7 linked regions of the Homo sapiens genome follow. The protein of the gene in region 1 interacts with the protein of each later gene in a pairwise test. Each region holds a gene or a part of one and is shown in the gene's direction. Other genes may lie near its edges.

Region 1 (3,500 bases):
CACATCTGTACAATGGAATCTTATGGAGCCATATAACTACTTTTTGAAGGCAGCTTTATATGAATTAAATTTATATGAGGTGATATGGAATTCATAAGTAAAAAAGGTACATAACAGTATCAAGGGCATATTTATGTAGGGGAACACACACACATACACATGTATATGCTTATCTAAGCATAGAAATCTCTGAAAAGCTGTGTTAGGAACTGGGAAGAATAGCTCTGTGGAGGGGAACTGAGTGACTGGGAGTACAGGGGTAAGGAGTTAACTACACAGCCTAATGTGTCTTTCTAAATTTCATACTATGTACTTGTATTATATATTTGAAAAATAAAGTGTAATAGGAAGGGGGAGACAGACCAAAAGAAATCAATCTGCCTTGTAAGATTAAAAAGAAAGAAAGAAAAGGAAGAAAAACTTAGGTTTATACAGTCCAGACCTGCTTTTGAGAAGCAGGTAGAAAATAAGTTGTCAGTGATTTTTATCAAGTAATTCTTTTATTTCATAATTTTTTTTTCTGTCTAGGAAAGATAGCTCTTTAGGGTAAATGTAAATAGTGTGATCCCTTTACATATATTCTGAGAAGAAAATGCAAAATTAAGAAAAGTCACAAAATGAAAAACTACTTTTTCTTTTTTCTTCTGTAAATTTAAGCATTTAGAAAACAAAAATGTTTGTATATTCTATGACTCTATTCCTGGGCGTTGGAGCATTTCTCTTTGTATACTTTGAGTGAAGTCCTTTTGTTGTTGTTGTTGAGACAGAGTCTAGCTCTGCCACCAGGCTGGAGTGCAGTGGCGCAATCTTGGCTCACTGCAACTTCTGCCTTTCGGGTTCAAGCAATTCTCCTGCCTCAGCCTCAGGAGTAGCTGGGATTACAGGCACGTGCCGCCACGCCCAGCTGATTTTTGTGTTTTTAGTAGAGATGGGGTTTCACCATGTTGGCCAGGCTGGTCTTGAACTCCTGACCTCGTGATCCACCCACCTCGGCTTTCCAAAGTGCTGGGATTATAGGCATGAGCCACCGCACCCAGCGGAAGTTCTTTTTTTCAACCTCTTCAGTCTGGATCCAGTTGTATATGGCTTTTGGTTTTTTGTAAGTTTCTCTTTAAGTGGACTCATCAAGAAAAATAATAGAATGGATATTTAGGTTAATTTTACTGATAACCCGATTGATATAGTGTAGTTCTCTGATAACAGACTCATCATCAGAATTTACCAGCATAAATGAAAGCCTGCCAAGGCATATTAATAAAATAGGCTGATGGAAACTAATCAAATACATTTTATCTTGTTTCTTATGAAAACACTTATAAGAAAATACCTATTTTTTAAAAAAAAGTGAGTGCTAAATTCAGGATGGTTGACATCAAAAGTCCCTTTATTTAATCAAATTAAGTTCACAGTCTTTTTCCCTTGTCTAATTTAAACATTACTATAGCAGACAGGGTTTGCTGAGTTCCTCTTGGCATGTGGTGCATATTCTGCATGCTTCTAAACAATTAAATAAAATTTGCCAAGAGGGTTATGCAGCAAATACATGAGATAAATGTCATCAGAAGAAACATCCAGTCCTTCACTTGCAGAGTGTTAGATCTCAGGGAAACGTGTGTGACATGGGGGAAGATGTGAAATTACTTTTGGAGAGGTTAGTTCCTATGGATGGCGTAGTAATGATGTGCTTATAGTCCCCTCACCCAGAGCTAACCCTGATCAGCAAGGACATTATGATATATGTAAAGAGAACACTTACCAAATTTTTATATGTCTTAACAAGTTATGAAAAGAGTTTTGGGTTTTTTTTTTCCTCATGGGTTTAGATTTGCTAGGTGAAGGTGCAAAATTTTGTTTTAATGGAAACTTAGATGGGGGGAAAAAAGATTTCTGTAAGGAAATAGACAACACACTTTTCCTGTTAGGACCTTAGCCAACCCAGAATTCCTGTATTTTACTTCAGAGGAGTTTAAAGGCTTAAATACATTGTTCCTGCATTCTAGTGTCTTTGTGTTTTTCTGTTAGAGTCAGTAATTTTGAACTCGCTCTTGCTTTTCATCCATTTCAACCAAAGCAAGATGAACTAAGGTTTCCAGAACAAATCTGTTATTAATAGAGTGTTTCCAGAGTACTTTTTTGTGCTGTTTTTAACTACTGCTACATTGAAAAAGAAAAAGGAGCCAGAAAAAAATCTGAAAAGTAATGTAACATTATGTTTTAAAGTAGGTATTTTGATGAATTTAAGATTATTCATTTTTCACCTTCTGTGTGTAAACTGTCTTGATTTCTTTTTTTTCCCCCACCCCGAGATGGAGTATCACTCTGTCGCCCAGGCTGGAGTGCAGTGGCACGATCTTGGCTCACTGCAACCTCTGCCTCCTGGGTTCAAGCGATTCTCCTGCCTCGGCCTCCTGAGTAGCTGGGATTACAGGCGTGTGCCACCACACCCAGCAAATTTTTGTATTTTTAGTACAGACAGGGTTTCACCATGTTGGTCAGGCTGGTCTCAAACTCCTGACCTCAGGTGTTCCGCCCGCCTCAGCCTCCTAAAGTGCTGGGATTACAGGCATGAGCCACCGCGCCCGGCCTTGATTTCTTTCAAAATAACCAGGCCACTACTTACTTTTCTGTCTTCTTTTTCTCCTTTTTTCTTCTCCCCTCTTCCTTTTCCTTCCTGCCCAGTTTTATTTCATCTGAATTTCCTTCAGTTCTTGAGACTGTCTTGACAATACTGAATATTACAAAGAAGCATAATATTAATAATAAACCCCAATACCAAGAAAGAACCATTATTATTAGTTGGCTTATTTCCTTCAACCTCTTGGTTAGGATTCTTTCTGTTCTGTGTTCTATTTGTACCCATTTACCACTCTGCTTACTAAGGAGCATGCCGCAATTATGGATGTGGCCTACTACCTGGAATTCACTGACCTATTGCCCACCCTCCATCCTGAAGCTCTTTCTTTCTTTACAAGGGTCAGCCCCTGGACAAGAGGTTGTATTCCCTTACTGAGTCTTATTTCTACCTTTATCTTGATCAGCCATGATAACCGGTTGGCTCTGTTTTAGTCCTTTTCACCCTTGCTATAGAATAACATTTATATAATTTTAATTAGGTAGATTCCAGAGCTCTTGCTGTGCTGTAATCCCTACTTGTTTTCAGAAAAGCACTATAAGACTGTGAAACCCTCCAGCCCCCAAATTCCTGCTTATGTCTAAACTTAGTTAACTTTCAATTAGGCCCAGACTGAATTCTCAGTTTATTTTGGCAGAATGAAACCCTTTTAAATTGTTTAAAGAAGGGTTTCAGTTTAGAATTTCATGTTGGGTAGAGCAGAAATGTTTTTAAACCAGGGGTTGGCAAACTTCATATAAAGGGCCAGACAGTAAATATTTTAGGTTTTGCAGGTTATATGATCTCTATCATAGCTACTCAGCTCTTCTGCTCCAGTGCATTCATAGCCATAGACAATCTGTAAATGAATGAGCATGAGCATGTTTCA
Region 2 (3,500 bases), on another chromosome or scaffold:
GTATCTGGAACAGTGGATAAAACACAGTAAGCATTCAATAAATAGATACCGAATGAATGGATGGTTGAATTTACAGCATGAGGAACCTGGCCCAAGGGTGAAGCAGTGGGGGTGTACTTGCTAGGAGCCTCTCGAACTAGATCTCCTGTTCTTGAGGATGAGTTTGAGGTTTCCCTCAGCCCAGACTTATTCGATGTTGGACTAAGCTAGGTATTGAATGGAGCTTATTAATTGCCTATTCTTGAATTGTGTGGCATTGATGTCTAAAACCCAGGATCTTCCTATTCTCAATGATCTAAACTAGCCCTGAATCAATTCTCTAAGCCTATCTGCTAGAACCATGACACTAAAAATAGCACAAAATAATAATAAGGACCAGTATGCTACAAAGGGGTGGTGAGCACATTCTAAATGCTGGATTTTGATTGCTCCCATGACAATGAGGCTGAAATACACTGCTGGTCTTTGTGTCCCCTCCCTCAGCTGCGTAGAGCATCATAGGCTGTTAGAGAGGAAAGGACCTCCAAGATCATCTGGGGCCAGCATTCCACTAGAAACCGCAGACTTTTGCCCCAGAAAAGCCTAGGGAACGGTCATCTGTCTGCTTGGCTTCATGGATGCTGGTGAAAGTGTTGGTTCCTGCAAGGGAAATATGTGCACTGAATTTTATAAATTTCATATCAGCCAGGCACAGTAGCTCATGCCTGTAATCCCAGCTACTCGGGAGGGTGAGGTGGAAGAATCACTTGAGCCCAGAAGTTCAAGACCAGACTGGGCAAAACAGCAAGACCTTGTCTCTTAAAAAAAAATGGATATGCCTTGTAAGGATGAACAGAGTTGGGGAAGGTTGCTAAGACATTTGCTCAGTGGCCCATGGGACAAGTGGCTCTGCCTCTATTTTTCCAAGCCTCATGATATGGAAATCTGCCCTGATGTGGGAGTGTATGGAAATAGGTAGAGCAGGGGAATGAGGCGGCACCTGAGCAACCTCAAGTCTGGAGCCACTTTGCAAGAAAAGGTACATCCTTATGGATTTTGCAAGCTGCTGTGTTAAAGACAGGTATTGGGGCTAGCTCTGCCCATCTGTCTACCTGAACCTGAATAATGTCCTGGGGCATATCCATAGAGAATGGAATCTGTGGAAACCAGAGCCTCATGCCGGTTCTCAAAACTCTTACTTCCATTTTACTGAAAATCCCTAAGAGAGGGTCCTTTCAAATGTGTAGTTTGAGACAGCAGGTTGATTAAACACCTCATGGTCTCTCCATAAACCCAACCTCATCTCCCCATGGTTAAGGCATAGCTACTGCTGCCACATGGATTAGTCGGCAGCTCATTTAGGTGTCTACAAAAATGCCTTTCAGGCTTGGAGTTTCTGATCAGGTGTCACAGTTCTCCCTAATTTCCACCAGGGATGTGTGCCTCATCTGCCATCTGAATGATGCCAGGGAGTACAGGGCCCTAGTGGGTGCTCGATGTCCAGGAGATAGAACCATATGCCTATGAATCACAGAGCTGGGGAGCAGCTGCTTGGCTGGCACCTCCTGACAGATTCACAGGAGCCCTGGCTTCTGGGCAACAAGGTGTCTCAGCACATCAGCGTCTCGAAAGCTATTATTACCTGTGAGCCGCCCTCCCATTTCTTGAGCTGTGCAGCATAAATAACAATTATGATGGTGACCGAGACACCTGTGCTATGAGATACACTAGGTTTCACTTCACTTGGGTGAGTAGAAAATTTCAGGGTAGAAAGATGACCATGAAATACCCATTCAGAAAACTAAAGAAAACAAAAGGATGGGAGGCACATGGAAGTTCAATAAAAGCATCTCTTTGCAGGATGGAGAGAATCCAAGATCCCACTGAGAAAGGAAATGTCAACCAGCTGCCCTGAGTCTCCCCGGGCCACAGCTCCCTCATTCTCCACTGTCCAGAAGTGGGCAGGAAATGGCTTCCAGGGAAGCAGAGAGCAGGGCCACTTCACGCCTTCTAGATGCCAAATGGAAATGGGATTATTGAGACAATGGGACCCAAAATTATGTTGTCAGGTGGGGAGGACATGAACAGCATTGTGATTGTTGCTGTTCATTTCACTCTGACACATTGTGTCTCCCTGGCCATTGTTGAGTCCTATTTTTACCCCGCCCCAAAACCTTTATCCTTTGGTTTGTAATTCTGGTAAAACAAAAAAGCCACTCAAAGAATAGTACTCCACATAGGTAAAAGAAATAGTGTCATTGTTCAGCCTCATCACCTTTTTGAGTCAGCCAGGGATTGACGAGCTGAGATTTAGGGCTGTGAACTGCATACCTATCGGCAGGTGTCATGTCTGATATGGGGCCAGCTTCCCCATTAGTAAAAGTCCATTAGGCGCTCTCCCAAGAATACTGAGGTAGCTAAAGACTCTGCATTTATTAAGCACAGAGTGTCCTCAGAGACAGGTGTGCTACATAAATACAAGGTGGTTTAATTATTTTAACAACCCACTGATACCATCTGATGAGCAGCAGTAGGTCTAGGGCTTCGGTCCCTTTGCTGCAAATGATGTTTGCAGACATCTGTTTAACATACTCCATTCCCTTTTCTCTGTCCCCATTGGCACAGATCCCTATGTGAAAGTGTCCTTGCTCTGTGATGGGCGGAGGCTGAAGAAGAAGAAAACAACCATAAAGAAAAACACTCTCAATCCTGTCTACAATGAGGCCATCATCTTTGACATTCCCCCGGAAAACATGGATCAAGTCAGCCTGCTCATCTCAGTCATGGACTATGATCGGTAGGTAGGCGTCCTAGAGGGACGTAATTCTACCCCTCACTCCCACTCCAGCACCAGCACAGGGCTCCTTGACCTTAGACCTTGTGATTCAGGGCTCAGCTTTAGGGTTCAGGCCTCAAATCTATCTGTACCCAAGAAGGGTGCAGGAGTTTGAGGAAGAGCATAGATTCTCCCTTAGCAAAGGTTCAAAGTTCTTTTCCCAACTGGCCTATCTCCGTCAGGGGCAGCTCTGTCCATCAGTTTCCCTGAATTCACCCCTTGCTATTCCCATTCTTCCATCTGGCACCAAGTCCTATTATCTGGCCTTTGAAATGCCCCTCTATCCTCTCTATTTCTGCTGTTGCTACTACTGTCACCCTGGGATGGCTGTGCAGCCTCCTAGCTGACCCCTGCCTCCATCAATTCCTGCCACAATTCGGTCAACATACTAAGGACACATCTTCCTAAATGACAGCTTTCTTCCTGGACCTGCCCTTCTCAAGAACCATCAATGGCTCCTGTGATCCAGGCTTTTCCCTTGGACTCTGATGGCCTTCCCTAATCTGGACCCAGCATATCCATCCAATCGGATCTCCCCTTCCTCAGATATTTTTCGTCTCTTCCACTCATCCTGCTCTTCCATCTAGGCTGGCTCAAAAACATTTTTCAACTACTCTGGTCCCCATAACTTCTTCTCTCCACTTGTCACTTTAGCTAAAGGAGAAAGAAACCATGCAATAAAGCC
Region 3 (3,500 bases), on another chromosome or scaffold:
AGCTGAATAAGGCTGAGCATGGTGGCTAACACCTGTAATCCCAGCAGCTCAGGAGGCTGAGGCAGAAGGACTGCTTGAGGCCAGAAGTTGGAGACCTGGGCAATTTACTGAGATCCTGTCTCTACAAAAAATTAAAAACTAGCTGGGTGTGGTGACATGTGCCTGTAGTCCTAGCTATTCAGGAGGCTGGGTGGGAGGATCCCTTGTGCCTAGGAGTTCACGGTTGTGGTGAGCTATGATCATGCCACTGTGCATCAGCCTGAACTAGAGGGTAAGACCCCATCTCTTTAAAAAACAAAACAAAAGCTAGGCGCGGTGGCTCACGCTTGTAATCCCAGCACTTTGGGAGGCCAAGGCAGGCGGATCACGAGGTCAGGAGATCGAGACCATCCTGGCTAACACGGTGAAACCCCGTCTCTACTAAAAATGCAAAAACAAAATTAGCCAGGTGTGGTGGTGGGCGCCTGTAGTCCCAGCTACTCGGGAGGCTGAGGCAGGAGAATGGCATGAACCCGGGAGACGGAGCTTGCAGGGAGCCGAGATCGTGCCACTGCACTCCAGCCTGGGCGACAGAACGAGACCTCATCTCAAAAACACACACACACACACACACACAAAAACTGATTAATATTCCATTGTATGGATGTATTACATTTTGTTTATTCATCAGTTAATGGACACTTGTTATATCAGTTGGGGTTCTCCAGAGAAACAAAACCTATAGGATGTTTTGTAAATCTCTTTATACCAAGATATTTATTTTTTATTTTATTTATTTATTTTTTTTGAGACAGAGTCTTGCTCTGTCACCCAGGCTGGAGTACAGTGGCGCGATCTTGGCTCACTGCAAGCTCCGCCTCCCGGGTTCACGCCATTCTCCTGCCTCAGCCTCCCGAGTAGCTGGGACTACAGGCGCCCACCACCATGCCCAGCTAGTTTTTTTTGTATTTTTAGTAGAGATGGGGTTTCACCATGTTAGCCAGGATGGTCTTGATCTCCTGACCTCATGATCTGCCTGCCTCGGCCTCCCAAAGTGCTGGGATTACAGGTGTGAGCCACCACGCCCGGCCCTAAGAGATTTATTTTAAGGAATTGTTTCATGGGATTATGGATACCAACGAGATCTGCAGTCAGCAAGCCGGAGGCCCAGGAGAGCTGGTGGTGTGGTTTTATTCTACAGGCCATCAGGCCACCAGGCAGAAGGAGTTCCCTCTTCCTCACCGGAGGGTCACCCTTTTTCTTCTCTTCAGGCCTTCTGCTGATTGGATGATGCCCATCCACACTGGGGAGGGCCATCTGCTTTACTCAGTCCACCAGTTCAATGCTCATTTCACCCAGAAACCCTCACAGACACACCCAGAATAATGCTTGACCAAGTGTCTGGGCACTCAGGCCCAGTCCAGCTGGCATATACAATTAGCCATCACACTTAGGTTGCTTCCACCTTGTAGCTGTTGGGAATAATGCTACTGTGAACATGGGTGTCATAAACTTCGTTTTGCTAGGAAGCGTTTCCTTAGTCACCCCCAACTATGTTCTTTCCTTATTCTGCCTTTCATCATCTGACATTATTTGTCCTGAGTCTTTGTCCTTCTCCCTTTTCTACCCTCTCCCCCTACTGTGGTTCTGAGAAGAATTTAATGCAGTTTACTCAGTGCATTTGTTTTCAATGCATGTTGCTTTATAAATGTTCTCAGGTGGGTGGAGGGCATGGTGCATGGACCTTCTTTTTCCTGGGACCCTAGCCCCTTCTCCCTGGGCCTTGAGAAGGCTTTGTCTGGAAGTGCTCAGAGTGGCATCCCTCCCTCCCTTCCTCTTCCAAGGAGATCCTGCTGGGCTCCCATCTTTAGGGCTCCTTGTCCTTAGTTGTGTTCTGGGCTCGTGCATAGAGCTGCTCTGCTTCCATGATGATTCTCCTCCTAGTTCTCTGTTAGGACCTAACATGGTGGTCAGTCTAACAGTCTCCTAGTGACCACTGTATGATGGTGACTGCACTCTTGCCTCATTATTAGCTAAACTGGAATGCTAGCTGGCCATTTCCATCCTGTATCATTCCATACTTTGTCTTGAAATCCTAGATAAAAGACTTGAACCACCACCCTGCTCACAGCACCCATTATACAGATGAGAAAACTAAGGCTTGGCAAGGGGAGTCACATGATGCTAGGGGAGGACTTTCCCCCAGCACCACACAGCCTCTTTTGACCTTCAGGGAATGGGTTGAGAATATTGGTTGGTTCTGGCTGCCATTCTTGTATGGTTTTGTGTTCCCTTTTCCTTTTTTTTCTATTTTTACCTGGGCTGAAAAGTCGATGACATAGTTTTTTCAGACTTTGTCTCTGAGGCCAGTTAGAAGTATATTTTACCTTGCAACCCAATGGATACACACAACTGAAACACTGTCTACCCTTATTTTCTGTCATGTATTCTGATATTTTCTATTCTATTTTATTATACAGTAGTCCCCCCTTATCAGCAGGGGACATGTTCCAAGATCCCCAGTGGACGCCTGAAGCCACAGATAGTACTGAACCCTGTATATACTATGCGTGAATTTTTTTTCCTTCTTCACAATTTCACGGATAGAAGATTTGTTCTTACAGGAGATCTTAGCAACCTCAGCATGCAATTTATTTTCTTTGTAAGTCAAGAGCTTTCACCTTTTCACTTAAAGCTGGCCAGGTGCAGTGGCTCACACCTGTAATCCCAGCACTTTTGGGAGGCTGAGGCAGGTGGATCACTTGAGGTCAGGAGCTCGAGACCAGCCTGGCCAACATGATGAAACTGTCTCTACTAAAAATACAAAAATTAGCTGAGTGTGGTGGTGCATGCCTGAAGTCCCAGCTACTTGGGAGGCTGAGACAGGAGAATCACTTGAACCTGGGAGGTGGAGGTTGCAGTGAGCCGAGATTGCACCAGTGCACTCTAGCCTGGTGACAGAGCAAGACTCTGTCTCAAAAAAAGAAAGCACTTTATGGCTTCTCTTTGGCATATCTGAATTGCCAACATCACTACTCTTGCTCTGTGGAGTCATAATGAAGTCAAATATGGGTTACTTGAATACAAGCACTGTGATACAACTATAGTGAACTGATAACCAAGACAGCTACGGACAGCTACTGAAAGACTAATGGGACGTTAGTGCATACAGTGTGGATATACTGCACAAAGGGATAATCTGCATCCTGGGCAGCACTGAATGGGACATAGCAAGATTTTATCATGCTACTCGGAATGGTACACTATTTAAAAACTTATGAATTATTTCTGGAATTTTCCATTTAATATTTTTGGACTGTAGTTGACCACAGGTAACTGAAACCATTGTGGATAAGGGTGGACTACTGCATTTAATTTAAAGAAATCCTAGTTCCAGCCCACTACATTGGGTTTAGGACTCATAATGGGTTGAAATTTTGATCTGAAATATATTGTTGTGTCATATCCATCGCTCCATCCTCTTCCATAGTATATCATTTCATTATTTCTTTCCTCAAACT
Region 4 (3,500 bases), on another chromosome or scaffold:
GCCTGCCACTACGCCTGGCTAATTTTTGTATTTTCAGTAGAGGCAGGGTTTCACCATGTTGGCCAGGCTGGTCTCGAACTCGTGACCTCAAATGATCCACCCACCTCGATTTGTTTTTTTTAAAGATGGAGTCTTGCTCTGTCGCCCAGGCTGGAGTGCCAGTAGTGCGATCTTGGCTCACTGCAACTTCCGCCTCCTGGGTTCAAGTGATTCTTATGCCTCAGCCTCCCTGGTAGCTGGGATTATAGGCGTGTGCCACCACACCCGGCTAATTTTTGTATTTTTCAGTAGAGACGAGGTTTCACCATGTTGGCCGTGTTGGTCTTGAACTCCTGACCTCATGATCTGCCTGTCTTGGCCTCCCAAAGTGCTGGTATTACAGGTGTGAGCCACTGTGCCCAGCTGAGGTTAAATCTTAATTGTGAAACACACGCATGCCGTGAGATGGGTCACTCGTATCTCCTTCTCCTTTAGCAGGGACAGTACTGTGAATGGTGCACGTGAGGATGGAAATTGTAGCCTATTTTGTGTAATACTTGACAAGTCATTAAGAATTAAAGCTGATTGCCGGGTGCAGTGGCTCACGCCTGTAATCCCAGCACTTTGGGAGGCCAAGGTTGGTGGATCACCTGAGGTCAGGAGTTCGAGACCAGCCTGGCCAACATGGCAAAACCCTGTCTCTACTAAAAACAGAAAAATTCGCCAGGCGTGGTGGCACGTGCCTGTAGTCCCAGCTACTCAGGAGGCTAAGGCAGGAGAATCACTTAGAACCTGGGAGGTGAAAGTTGCAGTGAGCCGAGGTCACGCCATTGCACTCCAGCCTGGGTGACAGAGTGAGACTCTCTCAAAAAAAGAAAAGAATTAAAGCTGTTAAGGAGCGTAATAACAACTGCCATTTACTGAGTACTTGCTATGTGCCAGTCACTTTAGGCAGACTCTTGGAAGATACATAATGGTGGAAAACTAAACACCAGTCATGATCAGTGCTCAGGGGAAATTGCTAGTAATAATCACCCTCGCTTCTCTTCTACCCAAATAGGCAATGTTAAAAGGACAATGGTAATAAAATTGGAATTACACCTACTATTTATAGTTGGCCCTCCATATCTGTCGGTTCTGCATCTGTGGATTTAGCCAACCACTGAATGAAAATACTCAAATTTTTAAAAATAACAGTATGATGAGAAATAATACAAATTTTAGAAATACAGTATAACTATTTATATAGCATTTACATTGTATTTGGTATTATAAGTAATCTAGAGATGATTTAAAGTATAGTGGATGATGTGCATAGGTTATGTGTAAATACTACAGCATTTTATAGCAGGGACTTGAGCATCTACAGATTTTAGTATCTGCGAGCGGTTCTGGAACCAGTCTCCTGCAGGTGCAGAGGGGCATCTTGTTTTGATATTTACCATTAAAAACAAACCATGTCAAGGACCTTTTCATAAACCTTCTTTTGGCCCTCACAGCAACCTTGTGAAGGCAGTTGCAGGTGAAGAAATGGCGTGAGTGCTAGTCAGCCTCTGTCCATCTTCACATTTTGCTCCCTCTCTGGCCTTAGTCGTCTTGTCTGTAAAATGAGGTGGAGATCGGACTCAATGATGTGTGCAAAGCACTGCCTTAAAAATTATCTCAGTTGAGCTTTCCAGTAAAGCTGGGAAGTAAGCTAGTCCTTTTTATTTTCAGAGGAGGAAACAGGCTCAGAGAAGTTAAGTAATTTGCTAGACGTCTCATAGCAGATAGAAAGCAGAGCCTGGGGGATCAAACTCAGGTCTGACTTAGAGTGACCAACTGTCCCTGTTTTGCTGGGGACTCTCCTGGTTTCATCACTCAAAGTCTCATGTCCAGGGAAACCCTTCAGTCCAGCCAAACCAGGACTCTGGGTAGAACTCCAGAATTTGTATTTGTAACAGATTCTCAGGTGACATATTAGCAGCTGTCTTTCTTTGTATACATGTATTCTAATGACAGGGCTCTTTGCGAAAATTTTCATAACTGTTTTATCCCTGTTGAGGTGGGCACTGAAGACTTTGGTGGTGGCTTGCTGGGAGATCCCAGGTGATCCAAGGCTTGTAAACCCAGCCCCTTTCCCACTGCTGACCTCATCTGGTGCTGTGTTGAAGCCTGTGGATGTCTCCAGAGCACCACCTCGCGTGGAGCCTCCCCGCAGTCTCAGGCGCAGGGCGCATTTAGCTGCAGCGGAACCACCACACCCCAGGGCCTTCAGAGTGTGTGAGCGGCAGGTGCTGAGAAATCCTTCCCCAATCCCAACCCCTCTTGTTGTGTGCAGGAGCTTTTCTGTGTGTGTGGGGCCCTCAAGCGAGCTCGACTGGTCCATCCTGGGGTAGCGGAGGTGGTGTTTGTGAAAAAGGACGATGCCATCACCGCATATAAGAAGTACAACAACCGGTGTCTGGACGGTAAGTTAGGGAGAAAGCAGTCCCCTGACCCTCCCACTCATCTCTACTTGCTGTCAGGTAGCAGGCCTTCCAGGGGAAGTCTCTGTGAGATGGGTGGAACCCATCTCTGGGGCCTCGTCTGCACCAGGAACTGCCGTGCAGTCTCTGAGTAGTCCTGAGCTGTGGGTTACACAGGGCCCTGGATTTTCACCCAGCCCTTAAGCTTTTGAGCCCAGCAAAAAGGAAAACAGCATTTCTCCATGGATGGTTCTCTTAAGGGGTCTTGCCAGGGGAGCCAAGAGGCACAGCTGTTGCCTCCCAGATGTTGATCTGTTTAGTGCTAGGGCAGAAGTTCCTCCCAGCCCTGGAGTTTTGTCTGAATGTTGACACCTGGGTGAGAGCTGCTCCTGGTGGGTAAACAACAGACTTTATTGACTTGAGGTTCATATTTTTCATCTCCAGACAGCCTGTAGAGAAGAATTCTGTCTGCCATGCTCCTTTTCCACTCATTTGTTCTTTCAGTATGTATTGAGTGCCTACTGTGGACCAAGGCCCTGTGCTAGAAGTGGAGAAGCAGAGACTAATAAAACAATACAACAATAAAAAAAATTACAAATAAAAGACCTGGAGCCTTGGCTAAATCTTGGCACCTGGGTGAACTCCCCTGGGTGAGTCAGTGGAGTTCTGATTTGCATTTCCCCATGGCTAATGATGTTGAGCACCTTTTCATGTGCTTATTGGCCATTTGTATGTCATTAAAGAAATTAATTTTGTTTTGAATTTCTGTTCTTTTTTTGTTTTTTCTTATTTTTTGTCATATGTTTGGATGTGGAAAGATACTTATTTTCCTTTTTCTTTCTTTTTTTTATTTTTATTTTTTATTATTTTTTTATTTTTTTATTTTTTTTGAGTTTCTCTCTGTTGCCCAGGCTGGGGTGCAGTGGCGTGATCTCAGCTCACTGCAACCTCCGCCTCCCCGGTTCAAGCGGCTTTCCTGCCTCAGCCTCCCAAGTAGCTGGGACTACAGGTGCACGCCACCAAGCCCAGCTAATTTTTTTGTATTTTTAGTAGAGATAGGGTTTCACCATGTTG
Region 5 (3,500 bases), on another chromosome or scaffold:
TCCTCAAAACTGAGCTCCATTACACAGGAGAGGCTCTGAAAGAAAAGGCTTTGGTTTTTGAACACGTGCAAAGTGAGCTAAAGCAAAAACAGAGTCAAATGAAGGACATTGAAAAAATGTACAAAAGTGGATACAATACAATGGAAAAATGCATAGAAAAACAGGAAAGATTTTGTCAACTAAAAAAACAAAATATGTTGCTTCAACAGCAACTGGATGATGCTCGCAACAAAGCTGACAATCAAGAAAAAGCAATACTTAATATTCAAGCCAGATGTGATGCTAGAGTACAAAACCTTCAAGCTGAGTGCAGAAAGCACCGTCTTTTACTAGAAGAAGACAATAAAATGTTGGTCAATGAACTGAATCATTCGAAAGAAAAAGAATGCCAATATGAAAAAGAGAAAGCAGAAAGAGAAGTAAGTATCAAGAAAAATAAGTATTTTTCAAACTTCCTGAAGTAAAATTTAAAGTAATATTTGGTTACAGCTGAATGTTGGATCTAGTTGAATATAAAAAAGGATACATATGATAAATATATCTGCTTAGAAACATTCCTTGTCTCCAGCAAGTCAAAGTTAGAACTGAGAGATGCTTTCCTCTGATTAAAGTCAATGTGTCACTTATAAAATTTTAAGTTATAAAATGTTAACATAGACTAACATTAATAATGTAGTCTTATACTGCTGAAGTAATAATTTTAATGTATTTATGTTGCAACATTTTAAGACCATGATAAATCAGGTATATGGAAATGCTCATACCTAAAATGGTATTTTGAAATTGATTCAATTAAGTGGGGTACTTTGACAGTGAATTTCAGATTTCCTAGATGAACTGAAGTGTATTCCCTATTTCATAATTACTTTTCTTCAGTAGCTTTAAATATGTCTTAGTTGGTAAAATTTTGTTTTTCTTCATGTCAATTTGACTTAAATCTGAAACTATTTCAATCTCAAATTATGTATAGATATGACCATTCTATTCTTTCAAGGCATCTAATTTTACTTCTATTATAATATGGGGCAAATGCAGTAAATTTTAGCCAAATCATGTTTGATTTAATCTTCCCACTGGCATTTATAATTTACTTTCAGTTTTTAAATAAAAAATTTGTTCATAATTTTTATTTCAAGGCTCAATTACTATCATTTGGATATAACTTTGTCCAGGACAAAGAGAGGCATAGCTATCTGTGATTTATTAGTTTGACACTGGATCCCCATTTTCAGACTAAGGAGGATTTCAGACTAACGAGGAGTGGCAGGATTCACGTAGAGTAGGAATGGAGTGAGTACGGAGGAGAGATATAGCAGCTGAGTCAGGGCGGGAGGTGGAGGGCGGGTTACTTAGAGCATCTAAGGCCACTGGAATTTTACTTTTCTTCTGAGATAGACATCTATTGGAAGGATTTAAGCAGATGATTTAATGTGAGGAACTCTGAGGTTGATTTGAGTTTCTAATTTAAAAAAAGAGGGAAATCATTCCACAATGTATAATTTACTACCATCAGTCTCACCCACATACTCATTTCTTTTTGAGACTTCAGAAGGTTTTTAAGCATTGCAGATTCATCAAGGGAGGAATGACTAGTGGGCTGAATATGTTGTGTGAATAACAATACCAGTTTGGCAGGAAGATAACACCTTCTGTATCCTTAACTGGATTCAGTAATACACAGGAATGTGTACACATGAGGAAAAGAAGGTGAATCGGTCTGTGTGGTGATATTTTTCAAAGAGTATGCTTTAGAGTTAAATATTATTAATGGTTTAATAATAAGGTGATTTGTAAAATCAGTAACAAAAATAACATCTTATCAGGTAGCTGTGAGACAGCTTCAACAAAAACGAGATGATGTCTTAAACAAAGGATCAGCAACAAAAGCTCTGCTGGATGCTTCATCGCGTCACTGCACCTATTTAGAAAATGGGATGCAGGATTCAAGGAAGAAATTAGACCAGATGAGAAGTCAAGTATGTATGCAACTTTGCACACCAACAACTGTTAATCTGTAGCTAGTTAACTAATATAAAGTGTTTTGGGGTACTAATTTTAGTGGATGGCTTTCTTTTGTATTTTTATGATAATTAATGTTATTAAAATTTTATAGTGGATGGCTTTCTTCTGTATTTTCCTTATTATTAATTTTATTAAGATTTTATTATAATGCACCTATATCTTAATCTCTGGCTTTCATTCTGCCATTTTTTATACATATATTTTTTTCTTAAATATTTAACCTTAGGAAAGTTGAGAATTATGCATCATTTCTCACAGAAGTTGAGAGAGTTTTTTTTTCCTGTTAAACAGTCTATTTTTAATGATTTCTCTATTGGCATGGTGAGGCAAGCCAGGTTAATTCAGAGGATAATGTCTAATGGAATGTTTCAGAAAATTATCTTCTTTTTAGTCTCTACTTTTCTGAATGTATAAAGAACCTGTGTATACTTATTTCTTAGATTTCAGGTTAACTTGTTCAGAAAGGCCATTTTACTGAATAAATTTTTATTTCGATGAAAATCCTTACTTCCTTTGTATTGGGCTCAGAGAGCACACTCTGTCTCTATATGAATATGGACAGTTAGCATTTGCCAACATGTATCTATTTTCTCTTATTTGTAGAGAAAGCTAAACTAAAAAGGGGGTTATAGAAGGTCAGCAAAGGATGGGTTTGAGATGTTTGGGTTGGTTAAGTGGGCATTTAGACAACAGGGCTTCTCCTTTGGCATGTTTAATGGACATCTTTGCAGTTTAAGATGACGCTTTTAAATCACTTCTCTCCTAATGATGACCTGAGTCCTGCTATTCAATGGGAGAGTCAATAAGATCCTGTAGGATCTTATTTGGAACTGACTTTGTCGATTTTAATTTTGTTCCTGCTTGTTTTTAAATTTTCTTGTTGTTTCCCTAGAAAGGAAAGATGATGCTTAGTTTTAAATATTTAAAAATGTGCAAGTTGCTTTGCTATAATAAAACTAAATGCATACATACAAAAAATAAAATTATAGTTGATGTGGTAGTGTTTGGAATTCAAAATATAAATGCTTAGCGTGAGGTAATCCTTTATCTTTCCACATTTTACCAGTTTGTAAGTTTGAGTATTTAATTGATAAAATGTAATTCAAAAGCAAGAAGAATGTTGTGTTTTAGTCCTAGAGCAGGGGTCTGTGAACTTTTCTGTAAAGGGCCAGATAGTGTTATGTAAGGCTTTGTGAGCCATAAGATCCTTGTTGCAATAACTCGGCCCTGCAATTACAGCACAAAAGTAGCCATGAACAATATGCAGACTGAAGGGGTGTAGCAGTGTCCCACTAAAATTACTTACAAAAAACAGGTAATGGGATGATTTCTCCTAGATTATGACCTTTTATAAATAAAAAAGATTGTGATAGTCTAAAATATTTCATATATATTTTGTTGATTCATTCATCTACTGATGGACATTTAGGTCATTTCCAAATGTAATTTTTTAAAATTCTTTGTTTCAGTTTCAAGAA
Region 6 (4,055 bases), on another chromosome or scaffold:
ACCCACTGGTTGGGAAAGTTTCTGTGGATGATTTAAGTCGTTCATTTACTGAGTTCATACTAAGAGTTTCTGCTAATTGCTCTCACTATTCTAGGAGACCCTTATTCAAACCCCCCTTTGTAGGCCTGAAGTCCCCTAATAATTACTGATTTATTGTGCTTTACAATTACTGATTTTTCCTCACTCAAGAAACTAGTGGACTTAGAAAAGCATGCACCTCTCTTAAACGATAGTCTACAAGTTACAATAACACTTAAGACTTCTGAAGTTTCAATGATAAATCTCTGTCCAAAATAGTAACACTTAAGGCAGGTACAGTTGCTCATGCCTGTAATCCCAGCACTTTGGGAAGCCGAGGCGGGAAGATCACTTGAGGCCAGGAATTTGTGACAAACCTAGGCAACATAACAAGACCTCATTTCTACCAAAAAAAAAAAATTTTTTTTTAATTAGCTGGGCATGGTGGCATGTGCCTATAGTCCCAGTTACCCAGGAGGCTGAGGTAAGAGGATTGCTTGAGCACAGGAGTCAAGGCTGCAGTGAGCCATGATGGCAGCACTGCACTCCAGCCTGGATGACAGAACAAGACCCTGTCTCAAAAAAAAAAAAAAAAAAAAGTAACACTCCTGTTACAAGTGAAGAACAGAGAGGGACCTGCATATTGAACCCACTACAGTAAGTTTTCACTGGATCTCAGAACTGCCAATCATTCTCCCAAAGGAGGTGACAAAAAGGCATCAAAACATTTCTGCTGTTTTGGCACAGACCTAGCTCTTTTGTGTCTGCTCTTTTAACACAAGCCTTCCCCTTCCTTCCAAAAGCAGAAAGTCACAATGACTCTAGTATTTTAAAATGAAGAACCCACGTGCGGAGGAGTGAAGCCAATATAGTAATATCTGAATGCCATCTAAAAATGTTTTGAGTGGTAAATAAAGGGGTCATAAAGAATAGCATCTTAACCTGAAATGCCTATGTCCACTACAGGAAAAATTCATGGGAGAAAAGAGGGCAACACATGAAACATGCCTGCACTGGCTCTCATGAGCCTCCCTGTAGATACTTGTGAGAGCCTCCCCAGGTATATCCATCTAGTGGAGTACATGAAACAATAACCATGCCATGACATTCAAATACATACACATCAAAATGTAGTATTGACTCATGGGTCAATTATTTTTATTTTGCTGCTTAAAACTTTTGTTTTCCACATTTTCCTCAAAGTGCATGTTTTTGTTTTTGTTTTTCTTAACTAGAAAAAATATCCCTTACTAACACACTGGGGAATTACAAAGGGGGGGGGGGGAAAGAACAATATCCCTTCTTCAAAAAGTCTTAGTGATTGACCCTGGTAAATAAGTTCCTTTATCTATTAAGTTCTAATATTAAAATGAGGTAGAAATCTTAATGAAACTAACTTTATACAATATTGCTGTCATACTGTGTCATGTTGAATTTTATATTGTTTCTTGTTGATGGATTTTCCCACACTTTTGAAATCTTTATACCTGGTTATATGTAGCTTTTTCATTTACAGTTGATAAAATATATTATCAGTCTGTAAATTCCCATTTATCATGTGTCTTAGCTTTTTTCCCTAGACCTAGGATGGCACCTGGCACACAGTAGGTACTTATATTCATATAGGTTCTGAAATTAATGAATGGTTTTTATATACTGAAGTAACTGATTTAAAACACCAGTTCCAGGAATACATCCTGTTATACACCTAAGGGCTACTTCTCAAAGGAAAGTGGAAATGTCCATCAACTGATTACTTCTTCCGTCTCATTACACAGGGGGCACAGTTTCTAACAGAGCTTGCACCTCTCTGTAAGATTTACTGCTCAGATGGTGAAGAATATACTGTGTCTAGGTGAGTAACTTTTTAGCCACCATTTAGGAGACCAAAGGGAGGTAATTTTTTTTCTTAGAAACAATTTTTTTTAACTAAGTAAACATGCTGAAATCTTAAATTTTTTTAATAGTTGTGTTAGAGGACGTTTGATGGAAGTGAATGAAAACATCCTCCATAAGCCATCTATTCTTCAAGAAAAGGTAAAAGAGAGAGAAAAAATATGATCTCATCCACATACCTTTTATTGGTTTTTTTTTCATCGTTTGACAGTACTAAATGTTCTTTCCTTTCCAGCCATCTACTGAAGGCTACATTGCAGTTGTGTTACCCAAATTTGAAGAAAGTAAAAGCATAACAGAAGGGTTACTGACACAAAAACAATATGAAGAAGTCATGGTGAAACGCATTAATGCCACAACAGCTACGTCATGAGGATTGACATGGAACAAAAAGCAAAGTGGGATTCTTGTTACCTGGCCTAAACCATCAGGGTACTAAAGGAGAAGAACCAGTATATGTAAAGCATACCTAACAGCCAGCCATATGCAGGGGAGGCCTAGTGCTTCACTTAGTTTTCCCTCTCTGTCTTCATAATGAGCCTTGGTTCCCATTTGTCTACAGCCTGCCAGATCTGGCCTGCCCATGTACTCACACTGTTCTCTTGCATCTCTCTAACAACTGGCATGCAAGGCATGTTTTTCTGATTAAAAACAAACAAAGCTCTTTGAAGAAGATTTAGAAAATACAGAAGAGTTTTAAGTAGCCAAGTAAAAATAATTTACCCATCATCCCATAATCCAGAAGTAAATACATTTGACCCTTGAGCAACATAGGTTTGAACTGCAAGGGTCCACTTATGCATGGACTATTTTCAACTATAAACGAGTCAAAAATATATCATTAACCAAACACGAAACCCACTTATAGAGCAGGTTCATATACTCAGGTTCCAAAGGGCCAACTGCAGGACTTGAGTTCTCACGTATGGATTTGGGTATATGTGGAAGTTCCTGGAACCAATCCCCTATGTAAACCAAGGGATAACTACTACATTTTAACCTACTTCTGTTTGAACATATGGTATGGTTATTGCTTTTGCCTCGTTTTCCTAACAGTTTGAAGTTTAAAAAAACCTAACCCACCTTTCTTACCCAGTCTTCTATAATGTGCCTACCAAAAAGCCTAGTCCTAGCCCATCTGCCTCAACTCCTCTCCCTTTTAGGTTGTAGGGAAGAGGCCGGAGTGTAGAGTATATTATATCTTCTGTCCCCCTTATGCCAACAAGATGGCCTTCCCCTCTGAAACAAAGTAAAACTGCAACACTGTGACTTCTTAAATGAGGGATATGTGAAAAGGCTATGAAAAATACAAAGGCTTTCCTAGGAAATGTGTTATAATGCAGCGGGAAGCTAATTCTTGAAATATGCACATTATAGTTACTCAGTCTCACATACTCTAGTTACTGGCAAAGAAGTTACTGAGAATATGTCATTCAAAGGCATAGGGGCCTTTGAATGGAACAAATGCTTTCACATCATTTAAAGTAAAAAAAAACCTCCAACAACTGTGAATTTATAGTTTAAGAGTGATTTACACTGAATTTCAAATAAAAGGACTATAAAACGTGTTATTTTTCTGTAAGGGCTATAACATACATGTCAATATCACTGTTTTTAAATAAAATATACTTTTATACAGAAGAAATCATTCGATGTATTAATTCCATTGGTTATCTATCCTCTTATGCTGTTGAAGTCATAAGTTACCCCTTCCCAACCCCCACTTGCTCTTTCTTTCACTAGAGAACAGTATTTTTTCAGGTATGCAAAAATATTATCTAATGAAAGTACAAGTGGGGGTTGGAATTTTTAAGTTTTAATTATTTACAAAATAATACTTACTTATTTTGTAAATAAAACAACATTTTGGTTCATAGGAAAAACTTGTAATCTGAGTGCCAGCATGACTATCCCCCTAAATATACCCCCCAGACATGATACATGTAGTAAGTGGATAAACACCTCCACGATGGTGCTATTAGCTGAAAATATAAACAAACCAGCAGATCCTCACTTTAAGTAGCACAATGACTCTTGAAGGCGTCATAAAACTATGACAGTAAACGTAGTAAAAGAATTGTGTATAACATTTTACATGTAACATTACCTCACATCATTCTCCCATTATTTCTATTGTAATT
Region 7 (3,455 bases), on another chromosome or scaffold:
CTCTACCCAGATCACTTTTGAGACAACCAGTCCAGCTGAGGACAGAGCCAGCGAGGTCCAGCTGCATCTCTACGGCCAGCACTACCGAGTCTACACCCACAGCTTCCTCTGCTATGGCCGTGACCAGGTCCTCCAGAGGCTGCTGGCCAGCGCCCTCCAGGTGCCCCTCCACCCTGGCTCACCTGCACTGCACTGTTCCCTCCTGGAGCAGAGCCTGGACAGCCACTGTGCTGTGGAAGGCTTCTCCAGGCTGGGCTTTAATTGGCTGGAAAGACAGGTGGGAGGGTCAGAGCATGAGCAAAGGCCCAGTGGCTGGGCTGGGCCTGGAGAAGGGAGGGCCAGGGACGGCTCTCAGAGGGAGCCTGGTCAGGGGCGTTGGGATCTGTCAAGCAGGCAGTGGGGAGCCATGGATTGCCCCTGAGCACAAAAGTGAAGTTGCCAGAGTGAGACCTGTGGGAGGTTTGTCAGGCTGGTCCTCTGGAGCGGTGGTGGTGCCACCCTGTCACGCTGGTGATTCCCCCAGACCCACGGCTTCCACCCCTGCTGGCCGAGGGGCTTTTCCACCCAAGTGCTGCTCGGGGATGTGTACCAGTCACCATGCACCATGGCCCAGCGGCCCCAGAACTTCAACAGCAGTGCCAGGGTCAGCCTGTCAGGGAGCAGTGACCCCCACCTCTGCCGAGATCTGGTTTCTGGGCTCTTCAGCTTCTCCTCCTGCCCCTTCTCCCGATGCTCTTTCAATGGGGTCTTCCAGCCCCCAGTGGCTGGGAACTTTGTGGTGAGTAGGGGCAGGCGGGTGGCTGGGAACTTTGTCGTGGGTAGGGACAGGCGGGTGGCTGGGAACTTTGTCGTGGGTAGGGACAGGCGGGTGGCTGGGAACTTTGTCGTGGGTAGGGACAGGCGGGTGGCTGGGAACTTTGTCGTGAGTAGGGATAGGCGGGTGGCTGGGAACTTTGTCGTGGGTAAGGGCAGGCGGGTGGCTGGGAACTTTGTCGTGAGTAGGGACAGGCGGGTGGCAGCAGGTGCTCTGAGCCGCTGGGGTTCGGTCACAGTGTGACTGCGCCCCCTACAGGCCTTCTCTGCCTTCTTCTACACTGTGGACTTTTTGCGGACTTCGATGGGGCTGCCCGTGGCCACCCTGCAGCAGCTGGAGGCAGCCGCAGTGAATGTCTGCAACCAGACCTGGGCTCAGGTGAGCCCCGCTCCCACTCCTTCAGGGCTGTGCGGAAGGGCTCAGCCTCCGCCTCCGCATGCCTCCCCAGCCCTGCATGGACAGGCCTCTCGGAGCACCCGCTGCAGTGGGGGCGATGGCAGGCATTAGGCTGACTCCAGAGGTGGCGTGGCTGTGGCCGGTAGGCTGTGAACAAGTCGGGCGGGTTGGAGAAGCTTCGCCAGGCCCGACCCTCATCCCAGATCTGGAGGGCAGGGGGAGGCCGGTGCCCAGGTTTCTGGCTTCTGCCACTGGTTCCCTCCATGGTACCACACAAGGGAAGATGGAAGTGGGTCTGGGCACCGGGAGTGTGCCCACCGGAGACTCCAAGAGAAACGTACGAGTCGTCCCAGGACCGGGGTGGTGAGCGAGGCCCCATTTTGTCCTCCCAGGGCCTAGTCTCAGACAGACTGGGGTGAGGGAGGTGGGGACAGGCGGCGAGCCAGCGGGCAGACTCAGGCCTGGAGCTCGTCCTGTTCCCCTGGCCACACACCAAGGTGTTGCTGCCTCCTGCTCCCTGGTGGCCATGCCTGCTGTCCCTCCTCACTGGCCTTCCAGGCATGGGCGCTGGCTGGGGAGGGATGGAAGCGTGCCCTGCCGGGGGTGCCCCTCGGACTCGGTCTTGCCATTCGTGTCCGGGCCTGTGTGGTGGTCTCTGGCCTCGCACGGCCCGTGTGTGTCTGGGGAGGGGTGAAGCACGCCGCCGGCCCCCTCTCCCCGTGGGGCCGAGACCTCCTGGTGGTCGCCTGCCTGACGGTGTCCCGCCCGCGTCCCAGCTGCAAGCTCGGGTGCCAGGGCAACGGGCCCGCCTGGCCGACTACTGCGCCGGGGCCATGTTCGTGCAGCAGCTGCTGAGTCGCGGCTACGGCTTCGACGAGCGCGCCTTCGGCGGCGTGATCTTCCAGAAGAAGGTGGGCTGGGGCGGGGCGGGGCGGGGCCGACCTTGCGGGGCGGGGCCTCTCGGGAGCTGAGGCCACGCCCTTCCCCGCAGGCCGCGGACACTGCAGTGGGCTGGGCGCTCGGCTACATGCTGAACCTGACCAACCTGATCCCCGCCGACCCGCCGGGGCTGCGCAAGGGCACAGACTTCAGCTCCTGGGTCGTCCTCCTGCTGCTCTTCGCCTCCGCGCTCCTGGCTGCGCTTGTCCTGCTGCTGCGTCAGGTGCACTCCGCCAAGCTGCCAAGCACCATTTAGGGGCCGACGGGGGCAGCTGCCCCATCCCTCCCCCAACCCCTGTATCCCCACCCCGTACTCCCACCCCTCCCACAACCCCTGTACCTCCCACCCCTGTATCCCCACCCCTCCACCCACCCCTCTCCCAACCTCTCTCCCCGCCCCTGTATCCTGCATTCCTCCACCCACCCTCTATCCCCCACCGCTCCACCCCACCACTGTCTTCTCCATCCTTCCACCCCACCCTCAGCGTCTCTGCCCCTAAGGCAGCCCAGGAAATAGGAACTGAGACTCTGGTACCCACAGGAGCCTGGGTGGGCAAAGAGCGCTCAATCCAGCTCCTTGAACCCCTCCAGCCCGCTTCAGCCTGGGCATCACTGCAGGCCCCGTGCTCCTCCTCCTCCTCCTCAGGGCTGGGTCTCCAGAGAGTGGGGCCTTGGTCCTGAGAATCAGCCCTTAGAGGCTCCTTCTGTGTAGTCTGGGTCTGTACTGGGGAGGGTCACAGCCCACGGGCTGGCAGCCAGCCCAGCACCTACTTGTAAAAATTTTGTAATAAAAAGTTTTTCCTAGAGACGTGAAAGGAGAGTGTCTGTGGGGTGGGGCATCCTTGCTGTGGCCTGTGCCCCCACCTTCCCGCTGTTCTAGCCGCACGGGCCTGCCCTTGGTCCTGAGGGTGGACACCATCCCTCCCTACTGCCTTCTGCTCTGGAGCCAGGCCTGGGGCACTGGCTGCTGCCCTGGTGTGCCGTGGCAGCCTAGAGTAGCTGCAGGATGGCTGGCCCGAGGGAATGTTCCTGGGCCCTTGAGTCTTCTCTGGCCAGCAGAGTTCCCCAAAACCATCACATCCAGATCTGCGTTGGTGACCAAGGCCAGACTGAAGGTTGGGTCCTGGTACAGTGAGCCTGGGGGTGAGGGTAGAGGTCAGGGAGGTGGCGGAGAGTGGGTGGCAGCCAGCCAGGCGGCTTCCTAGGGGGCAGTCAGTGCTGGTAGAGACTGGCGGGAGGGCAGGCCCACATCAGGAGGTGGCACAGGGGTGGGAGATGAGATCAGGACCAGGACCCATAGGCAGGA

The links.
Region 2: the proteins of HMBOX1 (region 1) and SYT6 interact in binary tests that used the Homo sapiens proteins (3 or more experiments, as listed by UniProt).
Region 3: the proteins of HMBOX1 (region 1) and PIP4K2B interact in binary tests that used the Homo sapiens proteins (3 or more experiments, as listed by UniProt).
Region 4: the proteins of HMBOX1 (region 1) and POLDIP3 interact in a two-hybrid assay, tested with the Homo sapiens proteins (one large-scale study listed by BioGRID).
Region 5: the proteins of HMBOX1 (region 1) and ANKRD36 interact in a two-hybrid assay, tested with the Homo sapiens proteins (one large-scale study listed by BioGRID).
Region 6: the proteins of HMBOX1 (region 1) and ABITRAM interact in binary tests that used the Homo sapiens proteins (3 or more experiments, as listed by UniProt).
Region 7: the proteins of HMBOX1 (region 1) and ENTPD2 interact in a two-hybrid assay, tested with the Homo sapiens proteins (one large-scale study listed by BioGRID and IntAct).

The regions. Positions count from the first base shown.
Region 1 is NC_000008.11:29,012,395-29,015,894, forward strand, and holds part of HMBOX1 (homeobox-containing protein 1), read left to right. Parts: intron 1-2,640; exon of another isoform or gene 2,641-2,728; intron 2,729-3,500. UniProt on the Homo sapiens protein: Binds directly to 5'-TTAGGG-3' repeats in telomeric DNA. Associates with the telomerase complex at sites of active telomere processing and positively regulates telomere elongation.
Region 2 is NC_000001.11:114,098,370-114,101,869, reverse strand, and holds part of SYT6 (synaptotagmin-6), read left to right. Parts: intron 1-2,604; coding exon 2,605-2,776; intron 2,777-3,500.
Region 3 is NC_000017.11:38,772,057-38,775,556, reverse strand, and holds part of PIP4K2B (phosphatidylinositol 5-phosphate 4-kinase type-2 beta), read left to right. Parts: intron 1-3,500. UniProt on the Homo sapiens protein: Participates in the biosynthesis of phosphatidylinositol 4,5-bisphosphate. Preferentially utilizes GTP, rather than ATP, for PI(5)P phosphorylation and its activity reflects changes in direct proportion to the physiological GTP concentration.
Region 4 is NC_000022.11:42,590,884-42,594,383, reverse strand, and holds part of POLDIP3 (polymerase delta-interacting protein 3), read left to right. Parts: intron 1-2,299; coding exon 2,300-2,429; intron 2,430-3,500. UniProt on the Homo sapiens protein: Is involved in regulation of translation. Is preferentially associated with CBC-bound spliced mRNA-protein complexes during the pioneer round of mRNA translation. Contributes to enhanced translational efficiency of spliced over nonspliced mRNAs.
Region 5 is NC_000002.12:97,245,653-97,249,152, forward strand, and holds part of ANKRD36 (ankyrin repeat domain-containing protein 36A), read left to right. Parts: coding exon 1-419; intron 420-1,823; coding exon 1,824-1,976; coding exon of another isoform or gene 1,977-2,018; exon of another isoform or gene 2,019-3,491; coding exon 3,492-3,500.
Region 6 is NC_000009.12:108,937,400-108,941,454, forward strand, and holds the end of ABITRAM (protein Abitram), read left to right. Parts: intron 1-1,796; coding exon 1,797-1,873; intron 1,874-1,985; coding exon 1,986-2,055; intron 2,056-2,149; coding exon 2,150-2,287; 3' UTR 2,288-3,555; downstream 3,556-4,055. UniProt on the Homo sapiens protein: Actin-binding protein that regulates actin polymerization, filopodia dynamics and increases the branching of proximal dendrites of developing neurons.
Region 7 is NC_000009.12:137,047,607-137,051,061, reverse strand, and holds the end of ENTPD2 (ectonucleoside triphosphate diphosphohydrolase 2), read left to right. Parts: coding exon 1-160; intron 161-523; coding exon 524-778; intron 779-1,072; coding exon 1,073-1,192; intron 1,193-1,986; coding exon 1,987-2,121; intron 2,122-2,201; coding exon 2,202-2,405; 3' UTR 2,406-2,955; downstream 2,956-3,455. UniProt on the Homo sapiens protein: In the nervous system, could hydrolyze ATP and other nucleotides to regulate purinergic neurotransmission. Hydrolyzes ADP only to a marginal extent. The order of activity with different substrates is ATP > GTP > CTP = ITP > UTP >> ADP = UDP.